Regions from separate parts of the Homo sapiens genome. Here region 2 is linked to region 1. Evidence: fine-mapped expression QTL. Tissue or cell type: whole blood. Region 1 holds a variant in brackets; the other region holds the start of a gene. All regions are shown on one strand. Distances are between the middles of the regions.

Evidence for each region. PIP is the estimated chance that this variant, and not a neighbour inherited with it, causes the effect.
Region 2: PACS1 starts here. The variant in region 1 is fine-mapped to the expression of PACS1 in whole blood (TOPMed, PIP above 0.99).

What each region holds. Positions count from the first base shown.
Region 1 is chr11:65,841,728-65,846,727 of GRCh38, reverse strand. The region is part of intron 1 of SNX32 (sorting nexin 32); the gene reads right to left. Among named protein-coding and RNA genes, the nearest start is that of SNX32, 10 kb to the right of the region's middle. The variant A/G (reference allele first, on the strand shown) is at 2,948.
Region 2 is chr11:66,067,553-66,072,745 of GRCh38, reverse strand. It overlaps PACS1 (phosphofurin acidic cluster sorting protein 1), which reads right to left and starts at 2,474. Exons shown (of 24, transcript NM_018026.4): 1 at 1,904-2,474. The coding sequence starts at 2,259. SF3B2 (splicing factor 3b subunit 2) reads right to left here. Exons shown (of 22, transcript NM_006842.3): 20 at 4,701-4,800; 21 at 4,413-4,598; 22 at 3,438-4,072. The coding sequence ends at 4,001. RefSeq lists silencers at 1,530-1,734, 1,795-1,944, 1,955-2,084, 2,235-2,284, 2,295-2,914 and 1 more and an enhancer at 4,462-4,621.

The DNA.
Region 1 (5,000 bases):
ACAGGCGTGAGCCACCGTGCCTGGCAAAAAACATTTTTTTAAACACTCCGGAAGGCTCCTTCTTGCCCCACACCCATCAATTATCTCCCACCCCAGAACTAACCACCATTCTGACTTCTATCACCATAGATTATTCTGGCGTATTCTTTTTTTTTTTTTTCGAGACAGAGTTTCACTCTTGTTGCCCAGGCTGGAGTGCAATGGCACGATCTCAGCTCACTGCAACCTCTGCCTACCAGGTTCAAGCAATTCTCCTGCCTCAGCCTCCCGAGTAGCTGGGATTACAGTCATACACCACCACGCCCAGCTAATTTTGTATTTTTAGTAGAGATGGGGTTTCTCCTTGTTGAAGCTGGTCTGGAACTCCTGACCTCAGGTGATCCGCCCGCCTCGGCCTCCAAAGTGCTGGGATTACAGGCGTGAGCCACCGCACCCGTCCTGGCCTATTCTTTTTTTTGAGACGAAGTCTCACTCTGTCGCCCAGGCTGGAGTGCAGTGACATGATCTCAACTCACTGCAACCTCTACCACTCAGGCTTATGGGATTCTCCTGCTTCAGCCTCCCAAGTAGCTGGGATTACAGACGCCCACCACCACGTCCAGCTAATTTTTGTATTTTAGCAGAGACGGGGTTTCACCATGTTGGCCAGGCTGGTCTTGAACTCCTGACCTCAGGTGATCCACCCACCTTGGCCTCCCATAGAACTGGGATTACAGGTGTGAGCCACTGAGCCCAGCCTATGCTGGCCTGCCTATTCTTGAACTTCACAGAAATGCAATTATGCATTGTGTATTCTTTTGTGCCCCTGTTCTTTAGAGAGCTCTCTACGTTGTTGAGTGGAGAAGCAGTTATTTTCATTGCTGTGTCTTATTTCATTACATGATTATATCATAATGTATGTATCTACTGTTGATGGTCATTTGGATTATTTCAAGTTTTTGGCTATTATGAATAAAGCTGCCATGAACAGTTTTTTGTTGGTTTTTTTTTGAGATGGAGTTTTGCTCTTGTTGACCAAGCTGGAGTGTAATGGCAAGATCTCGGCTCACTGCAACCTCTGCCTCCTGGTTCAAGCGATTCTCCTGCCTCAGCTTCCTGAGTAGCTGGGATTACAAGCATGGGCCAGCATGCCTGGCTAATTTTTTGCATTTTTAGTAGAAACGGGGTTTCATTATGTTGGCCAGGTTGGTCTCAAACTCCTGACCTCAGGTGATCCGCCCACCTTGGCCTTCCAAAATGTTGGGATTACAGGCGTGAGCCACTGCAACCGGTTACTTTTTTTTTTTTTTTGAGATGGAGTCTTGCTCTGTTGCCCAGGCTGGAGTGCAGTGGCACGATCTCAGCTCACTGCAACCTCCGCCTCCCGGGTTCATGCCATTCTCCTGCCTCAGCCTCCCTAGTAGCTGGGATTACAGTCATACACCACCACGCCCAGCTAATTTTGTATTTTTTAGTAGAGACGGGGTTTCACTGTGTTAGCCAGGATGGTCTCGATCTCCAGACCTCATGATCCGCCCGCCTCGGCCTCCCAAAGTGCTGGAATTACAGGAGTGAGCCACCACACCCAGCCTTTTTTTTTTTTTTTTTTTTTTAAAGCAGGGGGGTGTTCTCGCTATGCTGCCCAGGCTGGTTGAACTCCTGGCCTCAAGCCATCCTTCCACTTCAGCCTCCCAAGTAGCTGGGATTACAAGTGTGCAGCACCATGTCTGGCTTCCATGAACATTCTTACACAGGTCTTTAGAAGACTTTTTTTTTTTTTTTTGAGACAGAGTCTTGCTGTGTCACCCAGGCTGGAGTGCAGTGACGTGATCTTAGCTCACAGCAACCTCCGCCTCCCAGGTTCAAGTGATTCTCCTGCCTCAGCCTCCTGAGTAGCTGGGGATACAGGTGCCCGCCACCACGCCTGGCTAATTTTTGTAATTTAGTAGAGATGGGGTTTCGCCATGTTGGCCAGGCTGCTCTTGAACTCCTGACCTCAAGTGATCTGCCCGCTTCGGCCTCCCAAAGTGCTAGGATTACAGATGTGAGCCACCACGCCCAGCCGTCTTTTGAGGACTTTTGACCTAAGTCCCCATTTCTGTTGGGCATGAGAATTGCTTAGTTACAGGGAAGACATATTGTATGTTTAAAACACTTTAGTAAATACTGCCAAACGGTTTTCTAAGGTGACTAAACCAATGTACACTCCCAGCAGCACTGTGTATGAAAGTTCCAGTTGTACTACATCTTTGCCACAGAGTCGTTAGTCATTTTATCTCTCTCTCTCTCTATTTATTATTTTTTTTTTTTTAAAGAAAAGGGGTCCTGCTAATGTTGTCCAGGCTGGCCTTGAACTGGGCTCAGGCAATCCTCTGGAGTAGCTGAGAGCTGCTTTTGTGTACACGTATCAATTGACCTATTAAGTATGATAAACTTTGGACTCTCTGTTCCATTGGTCTATGTTTGTCCTTATGATAATATCTCACTGGACTGATTACTGTAATCTAACAGGTGAGACTGGAAATCAGATAGTGCAAGGCCTCCACCTTTATTCTTTTTTTTCAGAATCATTTGGGTGATTATAGGTCCTTTACATTTCTACCCCTGAAAAACATACTGGGATTTTGATTGTGATTGCATCGAATATATAGATCAGTCTGGGCACAAACCACTGTGACAGCTCAGAATTGTTAGTCTTTTTTACTTTCACCCTGTTAGTCCAGGCATGGTAATTGCGCATGGGGAGTGTAACTGGTATTACCTGGTGAGGAATGATGTTGAGCGGCATTTTCTGTATTTATCAGCCATCTGCATATCTTCTTTTGTAAAGTGCCTATTCAGGTCTCTGATTCTTTCCTGCCACCTCTTTGAAAGATCAGATTATCTGTTTTTCAGTAATTTGTAGGAACTGTTGCTGGAGACAAACCCATTGTTGATTATACCTTTTGTCAGTATCTTTTCCTAGTCT[A/G]TAGTTTGCCTTTGACTCTTAATGGTTCAAATGTTACAAGCTCAACATAACAGTCTTTTATGTCTATGGTTAAGGCTTTTTGTGTCCTGTTAAAGAAAACTTTGCCTACCCCAAGGTCATGAAGATATTCTATTTATTTTTCTAGAGGTGTTACAGTTTAAGCTCTTGCAGTTGTATCTATAATCCATTTTCTTTTTCTTTTTCTTTTTCTTTTGAGACAGAGTCTTGCTCTGTTGCCCAGGCTGGTGTGCAGTGGCACGATCTTGGCTCATTGCAACCTCCGCCTCCCAGGTTCGTGATTCTCCTGCCTCAGCCTCCTGAGTAGCTGCAATTACAGGTGCCCGCCACAACGCCTGGCTAATTTCTGTATTTTTAGTAGAGATGGGGTTTCACTCTTTTGGCCAGGCTGGTCTCAAACTCCTGACCTCAAGTGATCTACCCTCCTTGGCCTCCCAAAGTGCTGGGATTACAGGCATGAGCCACCCTACCTGGCTATGATCTATTTTCAATTCATTTTCTTCATTTTAATTTTAATTTCTTTTTCTTTTTTTTTTTTTTTTGAGACGGAGTCTTGCTCTGTCGCCCAGGCTGGAGTGCACTGGCGCAATCTCGGCTCACTGCAAGCTCCACCTCCTGGGTTCAAGCCATTCTCCTGCCTCAGCCTCCCTAGTAGCTGGGACTACAGGTGCCCACCACGCCCAGCTAATTTTTTGTATTTTTAGTAGAGACGGGGTTTCACCATGTTAGCCAGGATGGTCTCGATCTCCTGACCTCATGATCCCCCGGTCTCGGCCTCCCAAAGTGTTTCTTTTTTTTTTTTTTTTTTTTTTTGAGATGGAGTTTCGCTCTTGTTGCTCAGGCTGGAGTGCAATGGCGGATCTCGGCTCATTGCAACCTCCGCCTCCCAGGTTCAAGCGATTCTCCTGCCTCAGCCTCCCAAGTAGCTGAGATTACAGGCGCCCACCACCACACCCAGCTCATTTTTGTATTTTTAGTAGAGACGGGGTTTCACTATGTTGGCCAGGCGGTCTCGAACTCCTGACCTCAGGCGATCCACCCCCCCTTGTTCTCCCAAAGTGCTGGGATTACAGCCATGAGCCACCGTGCCTGGCCTAATTTTAATTTCTTGAGATGGAGTCTTGCTTTGTCACCCAGGCTGGAGTGCAGTGGCACGATCTTGGCTCACTGCAGCCTCTGCCTCCTGGGTTCATGCCATTCTCTTGCCTCAGCCTCCCAAGTAGCTGGGATTACAGGCGTGTGCCACCAGGCCCAGCTAATTTTTTTGTGTTTTTAGTAGAGACAGTGTTTCACCATGTTGGCCAGTCTGGTCTCAAACTCCTGACCTCAGTTGATCCACCTGAGCCTCGGCCTCCTAAAGTGCTGGAATTACAGGCATGATCCACCACGCCCGGTGATTTTCAATTCATTTTGAATATGCAGTGTGAGGTATGGGTTATGATTCATTGTGCCATGTGGCCAGCTATTTGAGCACTGTTTGTTATAAAGATTTTCCTTTTGCTATTGAATTGCTTTGGTGTACACATATCCATTGACCTATTAAGAGTGACAAATTTTGGACTCTCTACTGTGTTCCATTGGTCTAAATGTTTATCCTTATGATAATATCTTACTGTCTTGATTACTGTAACTTGACAGGTGCGACTTGAAATCAGATAGTGCAAAGCCTCCAACTTTATTCTTTCTTTTCAAAATAATTTTGGCTATTATAGGTCCTTTACATTTCTACAGATATTCTGCTTGTTAATTTCTACCCCTCAAAAATGTACTGGGATTTTGATTGTGATTATATCAAATATATAGATCAATCTTGGAAGACTAGATCTCTTTGTAATTTTATAATTTATAATTTTTAATCTTCCAATCTAAAAACAGGTAATATCTTTCCAATTATTTAGGTCTTCTTTAATGTTTTGTAGTTTTCTGTGTAAAGGTCTTGCATGTCTTCTGTGAGATTTATTCCTAGGTATTTGATGATTCTCTTTTTCTTTGCTTTTTATTTTTATTTTATTTTATTTTTTATTTTTTGAGACAG
Region 2 (5,193 bases), 230 kb before region 1:
GGAAGGAACACAGTGTTTCTATGTGTGAAAGAGGTGGGTTAGGATACTTCAGCGATAGATGGGCCTGTATAGAAAGAGAGAGGCCTGCTTAGGATCAAGAGAGGAACACCATCACATACTCAACTCTCGCTTGAGCTTGGTGTTGTGCTATGGATCTGGCCACAGCAAACTAAATTAATGTGGCTCCTGATTTCCCTAGAGAAAGGACAGAGAAAAAAAAAACAATGTGTAAATCTGTTAAGTGATGTGGAAACACAGAGTGGAAGCAGCCTGTGGAAACAATCTACTTTTGCCTAGTGAAGTCCCAGATCTATACCCTGCGAGCGGCAATCCCACCCCTCCATATGAATACAACCTAAAGAAACTTCTGCACAAGAGCACTAGGAGTCCTGGGGGGAAATGTGTGCATTACTGTGGGTGTTAAACAGGAAACAACCTACATATTCAAGAGAATTACGGTATATTCATTCACACAACAGAATACTACCCATCATGAAAATATTTAAACTATGGCTACCATACCACATGGATGATTCTCACAAACCTAATGCTGATTTAAAAAAAAATAAAAAAACCAATCAAGTCACAGAACACATACAGGATGACACCATGTACACAAACTTCAAGAACATTCAGAACTATAAAATATATAGAGATGCATTATGTAGTAAAACTAATTTTTTTCTAACAAGGGAAATGATAAACACAATTCAAAATAGTGTTTACCTTTGTAGAAGGAAGAGGGGAGACAGTCAGGAAGGGGCACCCTGAGAGCTTCAACAGAAGCGATAATGCTCTGTTCCTTAAGCTGAGCGAAACAGAAAGATGTACTCTCATCATTCCTATCTGGGATATATATATAAAACAATATTATCCAGAATAAAGGTGGGGAAAGGAAGACAGTCGAGGGGGGAGCCCAGCAATCCTCTCTAACTCTGACTTACACATCCGTCTGCCTAACCAACAGTGAGGAGACAGCCCAAGACTTCAAGGCAACAGAATCAACTCAGCTACAAGGTGACAAAAAAGAACACCTCCAGGCACTTCTCTGGGCTTTCTGGGTGAAACCAGCTCCACACACCGTCTTATTCAAGTGGCAAACTGTAAGACACAGCACCCTGTCCCCAGAGTTGGAGACAGACTGCCTTGCCAATACAAAAACAGAAAATATTCCCAAACTCAGGCCTATTTTGCCAATGGAAGGAAAGTCCCCAGATGGTTCCAACAGACAGAGAGCAATGGATTGAATTTAGGAACAAGGCAGTAATTTCATACAGCCCTGCAGAGCTGGGAGATTCTGGGACCAGTTTTAGTGGGGGAGGGGAGGTAAAAATACACTTGAGGACACATTAAATAGGGCCCCAAAACTAAGAGCCTAGCGCTTGGGACAGAACGTGTGTAATATGAAGTTCAAATGAACATGTGTGCCGAAGGCTAATGAGAAGCCCCTAGGGTGATTATATGAGCTTTACCTGCAAGAGGTGACAATCGAGTTTGGCACATGCTGAGTCTATTGGGAAATAATAATATCAAGAGATCTATACCACATCCATGTATGTACAGCTCCCGGCGCCGGCGAGGCAGGAGAGTGACTTACTCAGGGAAACTGACTGCCAGGAAGGCCGGATTCGGTCAGCCCAATCGGAGAAAGCCCGGGGCCGAGGCCAGAAGGTCCCTCGGGGAGGACAGAAGGGTGGTCCCGGCCCCAGGCAGAAGGTGGGGCTGCCAGGAGAGGGCGGGTCCCCGTGGCAGGAGTCCCGGGAGGCCTGGCTGGAGCCAGGCCGGGCCGCGGGACAGTCGGGGAGATGGAGGGCGGGGACCCCATGGGCGCTGGGGCGGGGAGGGCTGGGCCCCGGCGGCCACCCCGCTCCCCCGGCGCCCCGCCGCACCCTCCCGCGCTCACCTAGGCACGCAGCTGGACGAGCTCCGGTCCACCTCCCAGGTGGCGTACAGGTTCATCTGCACCGGGGCGGGGGTGCGGCCTGGCCCCGGGCCACCGGGAGGCGCGGAGCCCGAGGCCACCGCCACGGCCATGGAGGTGGAGGTAGACGAGGACGAGGAGGAGGCAGCCGCCGCCGAGGTGGACGAGGACGACGAGGTGGCCTGGGCCAGCTTGGGGGGCGTCGGCTGCTGCGGCGGCTGCTGCTGCTGCTGCTGCGGCGGCGGCTGCTGAGGGGACTGGGCGACCCCGGATCCCCGCTGGCCGCTGCCGCCCCCGGCGCCTCCGGGACCACCGCCCGCCCCTCCGCGTTCCGCCATGGCCCGGCTAGGCGGGGGTTACGGAGGCCGAGGCGACGCCGATCTGGCTCCCAGGCTTCCCCCGCGGCGGCGGCGGCGGGGGCGCGGCAGCCTCCTCAGCCCGCCTGCCCGAGCGCGAGCAGCCAGCGAGCTGCACGCACGCGCGGGGCCTCTGGGCGCGCGGGCCTCGCGCTCGACCGCCGCTGCCTGTTGCGGCTCGCGAGGCCGACACGGGTGGGCGTGTCCGGGAGGGGGCGGGGAGCCCGGCCCGCGCGGCCCCACCCAGCGCGGAGGGGCCGGGCCGGGCGCGCTCGCGCCCTGCGTGCAGCCACGCGCGCCCCTCGCTCCCGCGGAGTAGAAGGGGTGGTCTGTGGCCAGCGCGCGCCCACGGGTCCTGCCCTCAAATCCGCTGCCAGTCTGCCCCCGCTCCTCCCCTCCCCGCCCACGGCCGGCCGCGGCCCCGCCAGCGGAAACCCGGCTTTTCCGGGATTCGGTCCCTGCAGGGAGGGGGCCGCCGCGGGAGCGCGCCTCGGCCCCTCGGGTCTTCGGAGCCAATGCGGAACCCGCCCCCAGCGGTGGGGGTCTGCCCGGGGAAGCCGGCTCTCCGCCTGCCGACCTAGCCCTGCCCTGCGGCCCCGGCAAACAGAGAGGTCGGCGGAGACCCGGGGCCCGCTGCCACCGCGGGTGCCTGTGATCCGGGAAGTTCCCGCCCCGAGGGCAAGCGGGGGCTCAGGGACCTGGAGTCCAGAAGGTTCTTCGCATAAGTGAATTCTCAAGCTACCCCGGGGCCCATCTGGAGCCAACCTTCCTCTTCTTTCCCTACCCCCCAAATGCCTCTTTAGAGTGCCAGTGCTTTGTTGCTTACCAAATTTCTAAAATTCCATTCCTCCTAAGGCCTAGCTCAGCTGCCACGTCCTATCTGGATCATGCCCCCCACAACCCCGAGACCATCTTGAACCCTCCGGCAAGTGAGCGCCTCCACTGGTGCACTTAAACACCAACAGTAGTACAACAGCAGCGCATGACTACCCTCCCCACAGGCTGGCAAATGCCCATGGGAGCCAGTGATCCAGCCTGCTCTAGTCTGTCAGAAAGGCTGCTCAGGACCAGATTACAACCTGGAGAAAGTAAGTCCCCCCATCCCACATACAAATCCCAAACCCCAGCGACTAGTGTTGCTTGAACCCAAGGGTTCATATGGACTCAAGACAATTTAGCTTTTGAGCTATGTTGTCGCACAGGTAAGGACTTGAACTTCTGGTCACAAGGTCAGTTGGGAAGGCCTGCCCTGGCCTACTTCCCAAGCCCACTGTTACTTCCTCTGCCGCGCTAGGGCGCTAATCTGGCTATTTTTACTCCCCAAGGACAAAGTAGTAAGGTCAAACCAGACCTAGAGGTACTTCCCCCAAGCCTTCCTACAAAGCAGGGCAGTGGTGAAACACAGATTTCAGCCTGGGGTTGGCGTCACCACCAGTCAAATGCGCCGTCTAATCCCAGTTTATGTTCGTGGTTACTGGGGCAGCCCAGTGATTGTAGAAAGAGACTATTTTAGTCCTTTTGCAAGAAGGGGCTAAAAGGAGATGAGGGAGGCTCAGGAGTGTTAAATATTCATCTCTTTCCTTGGGAAACAGCTTTATTTACAAAACAGGTCTAAAATAAGAACATGAAATGACAAGTCCTTGGGAACTGCGGGAGAGGTGGTTCTTGTGTGAAGCCCAGGCATCCAGACGTAGGGCCAAAAAAAGGGCTAGTGTGAGGGGACCTAAAACTTGAACTCCTTATATTTCTTGCTGCCCCCACGGCTGTCCTGGGGCTGAGCTTTCCGTTTTTTTTGCTGTATAGGGAGAAAGAGACACAGGTTAAGACAGGTTGAACCACCCCCGGACCCCCAAAACAAGGGTGGGCAGCCTGACATAGACATAGAAGTCTGTGGGAAAGGCGCTGAATCTGAATTCTCTTCGAGCTCCCTCTCAGACTTGGCTGAGTTCCTCCCCCTCATCGTCCTTAAAGAGGGCAGCCCACTGGAGGATTTCTAAGACTTCCAAATCTAAGGAAGCACAGAGCAGCAAGCAGAGGCCACCCTCACTCTCACCACTAGAGGGCACCATGCCACTGAAAACGGCAGGCCAGGGTCCCTGGCTCTCACCCAGCCCAGCGCCCCTGGAAGCGCCTACCTTCTGTTTGGCAGCGTGCTCAGCCACCATGTCACTGAAGTCCTCCTTCTCTACTTGAGCCTGCTGCTCCCGCACATGCTCCTCATACTTCTGGGTCATGGCCATAGGATCCAGCTCCAACTCTTCAGGCGCCAGCGCCACTTCCACACCTTGCAGCTCAGGAGCCGGGCCCTTCCGGCTCATAACCTGGAAAGGAGATCAGGGCCTGGTCATCTCCAAAGAGTCAGAGAAGCCCTAGCTTCTGCTGCCTTTCTCAGCCTCCAAAAGCAGTATCCTCCAAGTACTCACCGTGGACATGTCATAAATGTGGGTTGATCCCATCATGGCCCCTCCAACAGTGGCTGTTCTCTTCTCTGGCAACACAGTGAAGAGCTGAGGTGTCTCACTTCTGCGAAGGACAATGGGATCAGGCCCAAAAAGCAAGGGACAAAAGGGTCTCCAGAAGCGGAAACAAAAGATACAGGTGGCACCTCCACTCAGCGCCTTGGAGAGCTTCTGAGCTCCCCAAGGATGCAGCCTCTGCAGTTCTGCCCATGACAGAAAAGAATTGGGCGGGGGGGTGGCACAGTGCTGACTCCAGGGAACACAGATGGAGCTAAGGGGCCCCCTGAATCAAGTCAAGGGATCACAGACCAGGACTCCCACATGCACATAAGGGTCAAAAGGTCAGAGAGGCTCAAAGTTTCCAAAAGAACTTTGGTACAGAGAAGCTGGCAAGATAGAGCAGGCGACAACAGTTCCCACCCGAAGAATGTCATGCCTGGAGTTCTCATGTATGTAA